4 separate regions of the Homo sapiens genome follow, and regions 2, 3 and 4 are each reported to be linked to region 1. Evidence: microRNA targets listed by miRTarBase, many of them from high-throughput screens and not tested one by one. Region 1 holds a microRNA gene; each other region holds the end of a gene's coding sequence. Distances are from middle to middle.
The links. Region 1 holds the annotated microRNA hsa-miR-5582-3p (UAAAACUUUAAGUGUGCCUAGG, at 944-965, shown strand). A microRNA usually pairs through its seed, bases 2 to 8, with sites in the 3' UTR of a target mRNA and lowers its output. Matches are read on the target gene's strand: a 7mer-m8 pairs with bases 2 to 8, a 7mer-A1 pairs with bases 2 to 7 and ends in A, and an 8mer does both.

Region 2: the mRNA of ERP44 is a reported target of hsa-miR-5582-3p. Seed matches in the 3' UTR shown: 8mer at 2,398-2,405, 7mer-m8 at 2,194-2,200, 7mer-A1 at 1,284-1,290 and 7mer-m8 at 365-371.
Region 3: miRTarBase lists LMAN1 as a target of hsa-miR-5582-3p. Seed matches in the 3' UTR shown: 7mer-A1 at 1,304-1,310.
Region 4: the mRNA of CD59 is a reported target of hsa-miR-5582-3p. The part of its 3' UTR that is shown has no 7-base or 8-base seed match.

What each region holds. Positions count from the first base shown.
Region 1 is chr11:46,750,847-46,754,089 of GRCh38, reverse strand. MIR5582 (microRNA 5582) reads left to right here and starts at 898; the gene lies at 898-965. CKAP5 (cytoskeleton associated protein 5) reads left to right here. Exons shown (of 44, transcript NM_001008938.4): 37 at 593-780; 38 at 1,380-1,455; 39 at 2,556-2,744; 40 at 2,835-2,972.
Region 2 is chr9:99,979,952-99,982,951 of GRCh38, forward strand. ERP44 (endoplasmic reticulum protein 44) reads right to left here. Exons shown (of 12, transcript NM_015051.3): 12 at 1-2,762. The coding sequence ends at 2,661. Among named protein-coding and RNA genes, the nearest start is that of STX17, 75 kb to the left of the region's middle.
Region 3 is chr18:59,328,173-59,331,415 of GRCh38, reverse strand. LMAN1 (lectin, mannose binding 1) reads left to right here. Exons shown (of 13, transcript NM_005570.4): 13 at 287-3,243. The coding sequence ends at 323. Among named protein-coding and RNA genes, the nearest start is that of CPLX4, 11 kb to the right of the region's middle.
Region 4 is chr11:33,707,137-33,710,379 of GRCh38, reverse strand. CD59 (CD59 molecule (CD59 blood group)) reads left to right here. Exons shown (of 4, transcript NM_000611.6): 4 at 37-3,243. The coding sequence ends at 254. Among named protein-coding and RNA genes, the nearest start is that of C11orf91, 7.9 kb to the right of the region's middle.

The DNA of each region.
Region 1 (3,243 bases):
GAGGCGGAGCTTTCAGTGAGCCGAGATCGTGCCACTGCACTCCAGTCTGGGCAACAGAGCAAGACTCTGTCTCAAAAAAAAAACAAAAAATTTCACAATTAGAAGCACACCGATTAATTTTGCCTATTACTAGAGGCTTGGGGGAGTGTGGTGATTTTGTTTTTTCTTTAATACTCTGAATTTTTACAAATATAACATAGCCGGGCGCGGTGGCTCACGCCTGTAATCCCAGCACTTCAGGAGGCCAAGGCAGGTGGATCACGAAGTCAGGAGATCGAGACCATCCTGGCTAACACGGTGAAACCCCATCTCTACTAAAAAAAAAAAATACAAAAATTAGCCCAGCGTGGTGGTGGGTGCCTGTAGTCCCAGCTACTCGGGAGACTGAGGCAGGAGAATGGCATGAACCGGGGAGGCAGAGCTTGCAGTAAGCCAAGATCACGCCACTGGCACTCCAGCCTGGGCGACAGAGGAGACTCCGTCTCAAAAAAAAAATACAACATAATTGAATATTTATCAGAATATGCCACCCACATTTCTTTACTCTCTATATTGAGTTTTACACCTCCCTGACACAAGTATGTCTGGATAGCTGTTTCAGATAGAGAGCCTTGCCCGGGAGGCCTCCACTGGAGTACTAAAAGACCTAATGCATGGCCTCATCACCTTAATGCTGGATTCTCGGATTGAAGATCTTGAGGAAGGACAACAGGTCATCCGCTCTGTGAACCTCTTGGTGGTGAAGGTTCTGGAGAAGTCAGACCAGACCAACATCCTGAGGTATATCTGTACTCTCAGCCAATAGAGCCTGGGGCATCCTCGCTTTTGTTTACACTTAGAAACCATAATGTCCGTAAGTCAACTTCCTAGGCAACCTAACAATCATAATCAACTTCCTAGGCACACTTAAAGTTATAGCTACATCAGTTATAACTATATCAGTTAAAACTTTAAGTGTGCCTAGGAAGTTGATTTATTACTCTTCTTCATCATGGACCAAAGGTATTTTAGCCTGAGACCATAGCTAAAACTAGTAAATACTTAGTTAGCCAGCCAATATCATGCATTTTCTATAATAGGACTGTAAAGTTTGTCAGTTACATTTTTCTTGTACATTTCAGGTACATTTTATTCTTTCTCAGCTACCAATGACAATGAAAAATAGAGTCACAAACCTTACACTTACCAAGTGGTGACTTAAAAGGCTTAAACAATGTTTATTTTCTTAACTGAATGTCAGGTAGTCCAGGACAATTCCTGATCCATGACCTCTCAGTTTATTAGATGAATAGAGTAATCTCACTTGCCCTTTCAACTGCTGATTCTAATTGGAATGCAGGTTTGAAACTTAATGCTGTTGTGTTGGGTTTTTCTTCCAGTGCCCTACTTGTTTTGCTCCAAGACAGCCTGCTAGCAACAGCCAGTTCTCCCAAATTCTCAGAGCTTGTTATGAAGGTGAAGTTGAAATGATTTGATCTCTTTTCTTTCAAAGATGCAATCACTTTGTTAAAAGTATGGGGAAAGAGGAATTGGAGCTAAGAAAGACATAGGCTCAAATCAACCAAGTCACACCTGAAAATATATTTTTCGTAATAAAAATATTAATAAATTTTTAAAAATTTAGCCAGGTGCAGTGGCATGCACCTATAGTAGCAGCTACTCAGGAGGCTGAGTTGAGGAGATTACTTGAACCCAGAAGTGAGCTTGATCATACCACTACACTCCAGCCTTGGCAACAGTGAGACCCCATCTCTTAAAAAATATATATATGGTTTTTTATATATATGTGTATTATATATATGTATATATGTATTATATATGTATATCTTAATATGTTATATATGTATATAATACACGTGTGTGTGTGTGTGTGTGTGTGTGTGTGTGTGTGTGTGTATATATATATATATATATATATATATATATATGAATTGGTCTTCAGTTTTTCCCTTCCTACAATTTATATTCTAAGTTCAGGCCTAAACAGTTCGTGGCCTCAAACAGTGAAAGGGAGGAAATATTTTGTAAATATTTTACTAATTCTCTGAGGATCAAAAGGAAAGAAGTTTGAAACAGATTTCATTTATTTTGGGGAAAAAGATATCTACAGCCCTATGATATTTGGTCTCTTTTGTGAAAGAGACCAAATGAACATATTTATAACATTGTAATACTGTTATTACACTGAATTAGTATCAGATATTTTGTCCCCTTGCATTAGATTTGGTTAAGCAACATGAACTACTTTACTCTCAGGAACGAAGGAAACCCAAGAGAGAATTTCTACCAGGTTAAATGATGGCCCCTAGCTCTGGGGAGTGGGAAGGAGTAGAGATGGATGATTAGATGAATGACTGGACACACTTCAGCTGGTGTCATGGTAGAAGTGATTAAAAATTTTCATGTTTTAGCAGCTGAACTTGAAAGATATGATGTGCCACATTTATAGCCCTGGCCATCTTTTAGAAGTGAGCTCAAAGCTTAGGGAAGATGAATGGTGACAAATTATCCTCATTCTTCAGTCACTCCTAACTCTTTTATTCTTTTTTCAATAGTGTCTCTGGAGAATGGTTCGACTGTTGCCTGATACCATCAATAGCATTAACCTAGACAGAATTCTTCTGGATATCCACATTTTCATGAAGGTCTTCCCCAAAGAGAAACTGAAGCAATGCAAAAGTGAATTTCCCATAAGGACCCTAAAGACCCTGCTACACACCTTATGCAAATTAAAAGGGCCCAAGGTGAGTAAGAATCGCAACTGGTCTCTGAGGGAGCTTGAGAGAAAATCATGGAAATGGCAGTGCTATCAGTCATGCATGTGTCTCCCTCAGATCCTGGACCACCTAACGATGATCGACAACAAAAACGAGTCTGAGCTGGAGGCCCATCTCTGCCGGATGATGAAGCACAGTATGGACCAGACTGGGAGCAAGTCTGATAAGGAAACAGAAAAGGGAGCATCTCGAATAGTGAGTGGCCTGACTTGAAAGATTGAGGGACATGAGGCTACACCGGAAGTGATCTTATCTAAGGTGTAGGTCACCAGGATATGCTTTCCGAAGGTCCAAGGTGAAGGCTCATGGACTGGTTGAATCAGTCTCCTGCTGTGGTGCAGTAACCATTTCCACCTTGAAATTTTAAAATCTAAACTAAGTATAACCATGTGTTTTTTGGTCCCCAAGAAAGATGCCTAAGGCATTGGTCACCAGATAAATAGCTAGTTCTGCTTAACATGGAAAG
Region 2 (3,000 bases), not on the chromosome of region 1:
GTGTGACCAGCTCCCATTTCTTTTTCTAGCTTCCCCAACCCCAAATGCCTTACTAAAAGAACTTTTTTCTCTAATGCATTAGGCTGTTTCATACCTTTGCTCAGATTATTCCCTCTCAGCCAGATCCCTACCTCCTGAGAACACCTATTCATCTTTTTAAAGCTCAAAATAAAAATAATGTCCTCAAATCTCTGCAATTGAGTGCTCCTTTATGCCCTCTTTAACCTTTATTTTGTCTTTACATCTATAACACGTTACAGTCATTGTTTACATATCCATATGCCTGACTAGGCTGTGAACAACTCTAGGGCAGAAATAATGCTTTATTCAGCTTTACATCTTTCATCATATACTACAGCACCAAAAAACTTGCACTGAATAAATGTCAGACTGAAATCTGCTTCCCTGTGACTTCCTCAAATCCTAGTTCAAGCCCTGGGATCCAGATAGACAGTGCCAGCATTTCAAATAATATCTAAAGACTGTCCCAGTCCCAAGTCTTCTCCAAGCAAAACAGCCTTAACATCCATGTTTTAAAAACCTTTTTATCCACGCTGTCCTTTCATCCAAGCACTTGAGCTTAGTGACTTTTTATAAAATTAGGCACCAAGTCCTAATGAGTGCTGAGCCCCTCAGGGTAAAAAAGTAACCAAGGTCACTTTGCTTCTCATTCATTAAATAAACGCCTGATGGTGACTACTAAGTGTCCAGAAATTCTAGGCACTAGTGATACAGACATTAAATTTAGTTTCCTTGTCCTCAGTGACTTCACAGTCCAGAGAAGACAATGATAGTGGCAGGGCTAGAGCCTAAGCCCAATATGCATGAATGCTAAGTAATACTTCCTCAAATCAACTCCCTTTTTAACAGCCACTTTATCATCTTAGAGCATACTGAACACGTACTCCTTGAGGCCTTTTTCATAATAACTACTCTCAAGCCAGCTCTCTGCAACCTAACCCTTGAATTGTATCTTTTGTTGATTATTTTTTCAAACCCAGTTACAGGATTACTATATTATTCCAGTTGATTGCATGTGCTGCTCTTGGTCCTGTGTGCTACCTTGTTGAATGTGAATTTCCATGCTGACCCTCACAGATCTGGTCCATAATCTAACCTGAAGACCATAACTCTAACTTCATTTAACTTATTGGTTAAAAGCAATGAGGATAACAGAACTAAGGCCCAACCTCTAGAAAGCTCCATCCTACTTTCTTATTCACAATTTGATACAATACATTAAATATACCCCTTATCACCTTATTAACATTTATTATTTTGAATAAAACTATGGAAACTTTGGATAAATCATGCATAACGAGGAATTATAAGCTGGTTTTTAAAAATAACAATCATTAAATATCCATTATAAATATTAATTTTATTTTAAAAGAATTGGAAGATGTTACATATATTACATACTACATATAATGGCACATGTCAGCCTTTTAAGCTTAAAAATAATCTTTTCCCAAACTGGGATTGATTTATACCCAAGTATAAAATGACCCTTGGCCTATAGCACCAACCCAGGCCCAGAGGAAAAGCCAGTTTTGAACCTGTCTGTCCTCTGGCACTGGGCTTCCTGATATGACACTGAGGGTCCTCTCCCTCTGGTTTTATTCCCTGGCAGTATTGAGGCCTGGCACAGGGACCCATCTTACTGTATGCTGCAGGCCTGGGGAAATCAGGGAATCTAGAGGGGGTAGGGTCCTCTAACCATTTTATAATGAAAAAAAGTTAAATATGTTCCTTATTCTGTGTTTTTGATTTATACAACTATAACAAGACTCTACAAGACAGAAGGAGCTTAAAATTACTGAAATACAATTTCTCTGCTAGTTCTTCTCTTTGGAAATTGAAGTCTCATAATAGGAGGAGCCTTAAAAGTCATCTAGTTCTGATTGGTAGCCTGTTCCACTGTCACCTCCCTGTCCCAGATTTAGGTATAATTCATTCAAAGTTTTAAATGCCATCCATATGCCACATTTTTAGACAAACACAGAAGCTTAATAATACTTTTCATTTTCTTTTTCTTGTTTCATAAGGACAATTCCTGCCAAATGTTCTGTCTTATGACTCTCCTCCACTTCAAAGTATGTTTAAGTTACACATTAAGAATCCAAAAAAATACCACTATGGAATTTTCATAAGCAATATCCAACCAATCAGTAAAACACAGTACACAGTGTGAAAACTTTAATTTATTCCCCTCCCAAGTATCCAGAATGTATATCTCTTTAGCTTTGAGAAATGAGATACTGAAAATACCAACAGAATTGATCATATGAAAGAAAGAAAAGCACATACGACACAGGAAACATCCCTAAGTCCTCCCTACCCTAGTAGTGCAAGTTAATGGTAAGTTTCTGGCAATGTCACCTTTCATTTGATTTATAAAACTTTTACAGGACAGATTTAAAGTGGAGATAGGCCTCTGATTTTTATTTTTAAATCCTAGCAGGTTTTTTTTTTTTAAGAGGCTACTATATTAAATGACAATGCATTTTGAGTCGGGGAGAAAAAAATTAAAAACCCAAAATTTCTTTCTGTTTATTCAAAATAAAAATACACATAGAATTATGAAAATATAGGTTTACTATTTCCACCACGTAGGTTGATGCTGCTGTTGAAAGGCTTACAAACTGTTTTTCAAGTTTTTAAAGCTCATCTCGATCCCTCAATAGAGTATACCTATATTCACTGGGTGCTAGTTTCTGGAAGGAGCTCTCAGGTGGACTGCTTGCTACATCTTGGGCTTGCTACAAAAGAAAGAATAAAACATTTTTATACCAATATAGTTTATGGTGCTATAATATTTTAATAAGTGTATTCGATGAATAGTAGTTCCCCTATAATTATTTGCTTATTAATCAATAAAAGCAACTGTGTGCCAAAGCAAGATATTTAAATGTGAAATCTTGCTTTCCTCATTTCAAATGCTCTTATTGAGATTCTCCAGGGCAGGGTTGCCACAGGGCCATTAACTGTGGGCTTGTT
Region 3 (3,243 bases), not on the chromosome of region 1:
AAGTCTCTTGATAAAATGTGACCCAATATTTTTCTGCATCTGTTTAATTAGAAATATTCAACTAAGTTATCTATGTTCATAATACAATTTTCACCACCTATAAAATTAAGTTTATTGTGATTTCTGTTCATTTCAGTTCACATAAAGTGCACGTGTAGAATATATGTTTATCTTAATGCGTTGTATACTTCAAAAGGCATTGATATTTTAATTTTAAATAGTCCTGTTTCTTTCCAAAGTTAAGCGTATAGAACTTCTTTAAGTGTTTGTTTCTTTTTTTCATTAGGTCTCAGCAAGAAGCAGCTGCCAAAAAATTCTTTTGACTACCATTTTCCTGTGTACTTCATCTATTTGTGTACAAAATGATGTCGTTTTGAGGGAATTTAAGTATTTAAATTGCTTCATAGTCTAAATTATTAATTTTCTTAATAAAATAACTGTTTAAACATTGATTTGCAGTTAAGAATAAACCTTAAAGCAAAGACAACCACATTTTAATTTGTTCACAGTATGTAAATCTGTCTAAATTTCAGTGAATTTCTGGTCAGTATGATGCAGCCTCTGAGCAGAATATTGACCAGTAAGAGGGTAAATAAAGTGGGGGCAACCCCTGGATATGAATGTTACCCCCTAAGTCTCCAATATTGCAGGTTTCCCTGTATAACGTAAACACACTTGCCCTCATGCCTCCCAGAATATGAGGTCTAATTAAGAAGTCCCATCAGGTTTATTTTGTAACCAAAGTCTTTTTTAGAGGTCAGACTTCCTAATCAAAGGCCTGGGCCTGCAGTCCTTTCATCTTAATGCAACTTCCTTTGAAATCAAAGAATATTTTGTCTGAGAGCTTTAAGGATCTGGTAATAGACTTCAAAATGTTAAGTGAAATTTTTTTTTCCTCTATTTATCAATGATATATTTCACTTTTAAAGGAAATTTTAGAGGAAAATTAATAGCTGCTTTTTGCCTAAAAAACCTTGTGGGTGGAAACATTCCTCTGAGAATGGCTTTTATAGGTATTTTGCCTGGTAATGTATTCATTCATGATTGCCCATATTCTTGAATGTCTTCATTCCAATGGGGTCAGGTCAATATTATGAAAATAATTTTTATATTTATATTTGTAACTTAAGGAATTTATTTCTCCCTTTACTACAGCATGTAAATTCAGCTCAAATTGCATGATCTGAGGATTTAAATTCACAAAACCTGCCACTACATTCTGGTTTACATTAGTTACTTCATGCTGGCTGGGGTTAGTGACCATTTGCATACTCTTTTAAATCAAGGAGGCTGTAGTAGAAGCAGTTTTAAGATTCTTGAAGGCAAAATTTGAAAAACAGTGAATACTTCTAATTGTTTCCTTTTAGTGCCAGAACTAAGGACATTGTGAAGCACTTGTTAGTAAACTTAACCTTGAAATGTCAGACTGGAAGGAGTTTTTATAGTCTTTGTGCATACTTCTAGGTATTACAGAAACAGTCTGTAAATGACATTTTAAGATGCAAATTTAATTCTGTTCACAGCTGATTTATACTGATTTTTGCTGCCTTCAAAATACTCTTTTACTTCTTTTAGCTAAAATGGTTGTCTTTCATTTGCCATAGAATTCCAAACAATACTATCTTATAAAATAGTACTGTTGAATTATTCCAAGCCTCCCTAGGTTTGCTCTCAAATGTCATTTACAGATTGGGCTAACGACCTAAAATCTATATATAAAGACTTTCTGAAGAACTCTGTATTATAGCAATACCAAACGAGTGCTGTGTGTGCAAACAGTCTGGCGTTGCTTTTTATGTTGATATTTATCCTAGAACACTGAAAGAGAATATGCCAGTGATAACTCACTTTACTTCAGTCATTTCAACACAGAAAATGCTTCTCTAGCATTTTTCTTTTGTAGTGTTAACATTTTGAAATTCATGTTTCAGAGGCTTCATCATCACAGAATTTACTCTTGCTCCATGAAAAAAAATTAAATACCTTCAGAGGAATATTTAAGTTGTAAACTATGAAACTTGAGAAATCCTCTTGAGATAAAAGGCTGCCAAATCCAGTATTATAAAGTCCATGGTCATATGTGCCTGTGCATTAAAGGAATACCAGATCTATGCAGTATACATTTTTCAGGCTGAAATTCAAGGGGAATCATTCTGATTATTCTTACTACAAATGGAGATGGCTATTATGAAACAGCATGAGCATGAGCCTTTTATCTTTTATACTTAGTGATATACTTTGCTTGAAAATCACTCAGCAAAGTAGTTCACATGATGTGTATCATATTTGAAGTGTGGTTTTTCTCAAAATCATTGACTTTAAGGAGCTCATTTCTGAACAAAAAGGTTTGCTCTGTGGAAAAATCAATCACTGCCAGGATTCTTTCATTTCTGTACTATTTTGTATAATTGAATTTGTTCACTTCTCTCACACCAGCAAGTGTTTTACAGGTGCCTTGGATTAAAACAAAATTGATTTTAAAATTTTTATGTAAGTCATTGTGTCTATGATGCCACTTTTAAAAGGAAAATGCAATTGCGTAATGGCTTATATCCTTATTTAATGTACCTATTTGTGTTCTAATAATTGTTTGAATGTTTTATTCAGCTTAAAACTTTACCATGAAGTCATAAACAGTAAACAATGTTTTGTTATGTATTAAGGGGATATCAGTGTTTCTCAAAGTATGATCCATGGACCATCTGGGTCATGGCGCCTGGTTTCAGACAACCTGAATCAAATCTTAGGGGTGGGGCTTTGGGATGTCATTGTTCAATAGGCACCTCAGGAGATTCTGAGCACACCAATGTTTGAGAACCACTAAAATGAGGAGTGGGAAAAAAAAAATAGGTGTTTTGTTAATTTAGAGCTGAGCTGAGAAGATAATATATTTTTATTGTCAATGACATTAACAGATATGCACTGATTCTTTTATACCTACAATTTACTTAATGTTCCTTTTATTAAAACGCGTGGTTCATGAGCAACTACAGACTGAATCCAGATTATTACCTGTTGCTTTCAGTATTTTCGTGATGGCTTTTAATCTTATGAAATCATCTTGAGATCATTCATGGTCAAGCCATGAAAACTCCCATCTTCAAGCCTGCCTGCTAAAGCTTCTTTGCCTTCCTGATTGTGATTATGGTAACAATTTATATCAGACAGTTGTACTTTTTGATAACTTAGGGAAAACAGAAATGACTTGAACAAGGGATTGCCTGCCTCACTGCATTGCAGAGA
Region 4 (3,243 bases), 13 Mb from region 1:
ACTTACTTTCTTACCCTTGTGTGTGTCTCCCCACAGGGTTACAAGTGTATAACAAGTGTTGGAAGTTTGAGCATTGCAATTTCAACGACGTCACAACCCGCTTGAGGGAAAATGAGCTAACGTACTACTGCTGCAAGAAGGACCTGTGTAACTTTAACGAACAGCTTGAAAATGGTGGGACATCCTTATCAGAGAAAACAGTTCTTCTGCTGGTGACTCCATTTCTGGCAGCAGCCTGGAGCCTTCATCCCTAAGTCAACACCAGGAGAGCTTCTCCCAAACTCCCCGTTCCTGCGTAGTCCGCTTTCTCTTGCTGCCACATTCTAAAGGCTTGATATTTTCCAAATGGATCCTGTTGGGAAAGAATAAAATTAGCTTGAGCAACCTGGCTAAGATAGAGGGGCTCTGGGAGACTTTGAAGACCAGTCCTGTTTGCAGGGAAGCCCCACTTGAAGGAAGAAGTCTAAGAGTGAAGTAGGTGTGACTTGAACTAGATTGCATGCTTCCTCCTTTGCTCTTGGGAAGACCAGCTTTGCAGTGACAGCTTGAGTGGGTTCTCTGCAGCCCTCAGATTATTTTTCCTCTGGCTCCTTGGATGTAGTCAGTTAGCATCATTAGTACATCTTTGGAGGGTGGGGCAGGAGTATATGAGCATCCTCTCTCACATGGAACGCTTTCATAAACTTCAGGGATCCCGTGTTGCCATGGAGGCATGCCAAATGTTCCATATGTGGGTGTCAGTCAGGGACAACAAGATCCTTAATGCAGAGCTAGAGGACTTCTGGCAGGGAAGTGGGGAAGTGTTCCAGATAGCAGGGCATGAAAACTTAGAGAGGTACAAGTGGCTGAAAATCGAGTTTTTCCTCTGTCTTTAAATTTTATATGGGCTTTGTTATCTTCCACTGGAAAAGTGTAATAGCATACATCAATGGTGTGTTAAAGCTATTTCCTTGCCTTTTTTTTATTGGAATGGTAGGATATCTTGGCTTTGCCACACACAGTTACAGAGTGAACACTCTACTACATGTGACTGGCAGTATTAAGTGTGCTTATTTTAAATGTTACTGGTAGAAAGGCAGTTCAGGTATGTGTGTATATAGTATGAATGCAGTGGGGACACCCTTTGTGGTTACAGTTTGAGACTTCCAAAGGTCATCCTTAATAACAACAGATCTGCAGGGGTATGTTTTACCATCTGCATCCAGCCTCCTGCTAACTCCTAGCTGACTCAGCATAGATTGTATAAAATACCTTTGTAACGGCTCTTAGCACACTCACAGATGTTTGAGGCTTTCAGAAGCTCTTCTAAAAAATGATACACACCTTTCACAAGGGCAAACTTTTTCCTTTTCCCTGTGTATTCTAGTGAATGAATCTCAAGATTCAGTAGACCTAATGACATTTGTATTTTATGATCTTGGCTGTATTTAATGGCATAGGCTGACTTTTGCAGATGGAGGAATTTCTTGATTAATGTTGAAAAAAAACCCTTGATTATACTCTGTTGGACAAACCGAGTGCAATGAATGATGCTTTTCTGAAAATGAAATATAACAAGTGGGTGAATGTGGTTATGGCCGAAAAGGATATGCAGTATGCTTAATGGTAGCAACTGAAAGAAGACATCCTGAGCAGTGCCAGCTTTCTTCTGTTGATGCCGTTCCCTGAACATAGGAAAATAGAAACTTGCTTATCAAAACTTAGCATTACCTTGGTGCTCTGTGTTCTCTGTTAGCTCAGTGTCTTTCCTTACATCAATAGGTTTTTTTTTTTTTTTTTGGCCTGAGGAAGTACTGACCATGCCCACAGCCACCGGCTGAGCAAAGAAGCTCATTTCATGTGAGTTCTAAGGAATGAGAAACAATTTTGATGAATTTAAGCAGAAAATGAATTTCTGGGAACTTTTTTGGGGGCGGGGGGGTGGGGAATTCAGCCACACTCCAGAAAGCCAGGAGTCGACAGTTTTGGAAGCCTCTCTCAGGATTGAGATTCTAGGATGAGATTGGCTTACTGCTATCTTGTGTCATGTACCCACTTTTTGGCCAGACTACACTGGGAAGAAGGTAGTCCTCTAAAGCAAAATCTGAGTGCCACTAAATGGGGAGATGGGGCTGTTAAGCTGTCCAAATCAACAAGGGTCATATAAATGGCCTTAAACTTTGGGGTTGCTTTCTGCAAAAAGTTGCTGTGACTCATGCCATAGACAAGGTTGAGTGCCTGGACCCAAAGGCAATACTGTAATGTAAAGACATTTATAGTACTAGGCAAACAGCACCCCAGGTACTCCAGGCCCTCCTGGCTGGAGAGGGCTGTGGCAATAGAAAATTAGTGCCAACTGCAGTGAGTCAGCCTAGGTTAAATAGAGAGTGTAAGAGTGCTGGACAGGAACCTCCACCCTCATGTCACATTTCTTCAATGTGACCCTTCTGGCCCCTCTCCTCCTGACAGCGGAACAATGACTGCCCCGATAGGTGAGGCTGGAGGAAGAATCAGTCCTGTCCTTGGCAAGCTCTTCACTATGACAGTAAAGGCTCTCTGCCTGCTGCCAAGGCCTGTGACTTTCTAACCTGGCCTCACGCTGGGTAAGCTTAAGGTAGAGGTGCAGGATTAGCAAGCCCACCTGGCTACCAGGCCGACAGCTACATCCTCCAACTGACCCTGATCAACGAAGAGGGATTCATGTGTCTGTCTCAGTTGGTTCCAAATGAAACCAGGGAGCAGGGGAGTTAGGAATCGAACACCAGTCATGCCTACTGGCTCTCTGCTCGAGAGCCAATACCCTGTGCCCTCCACTCATCTGGATTTACAGGAACTGTCATAGTGTTCAGTATTGGGTGGTGATAAGCCCATTGGATTGTCCCCTTGGGGGGATGAGCTAGGGGTGCAAGGAACACCTGATGAGTAGATAAGTGGAGCTCATGGTATTTCCTGAAAGATGCTAATCTATTTGCCAAACTTGGTCTTGAATGTACTGGGGGCTTCAAGGTATGGGTATATTTTTCTTGTGTCCTTGCAGTTAGCCCCCATGTCTTATGTGTGTCCTGAAAAAATAAGAGCCTGCCCAAGACTTTGGGCCTCTTGACAGAATTAACCACTTTTATACATCTGAGTTCTCTTGGTAAGTTCTTTAGCAGTGTTCAAAGTCTACTAGCTCGCATTAGTTTCTGTTGCTGCCAACAGATCTGAACTAATGCTAACAGATCCCCCTGAGGGATTCTTGATGGGCTGAGCAGCTGGCTGGAG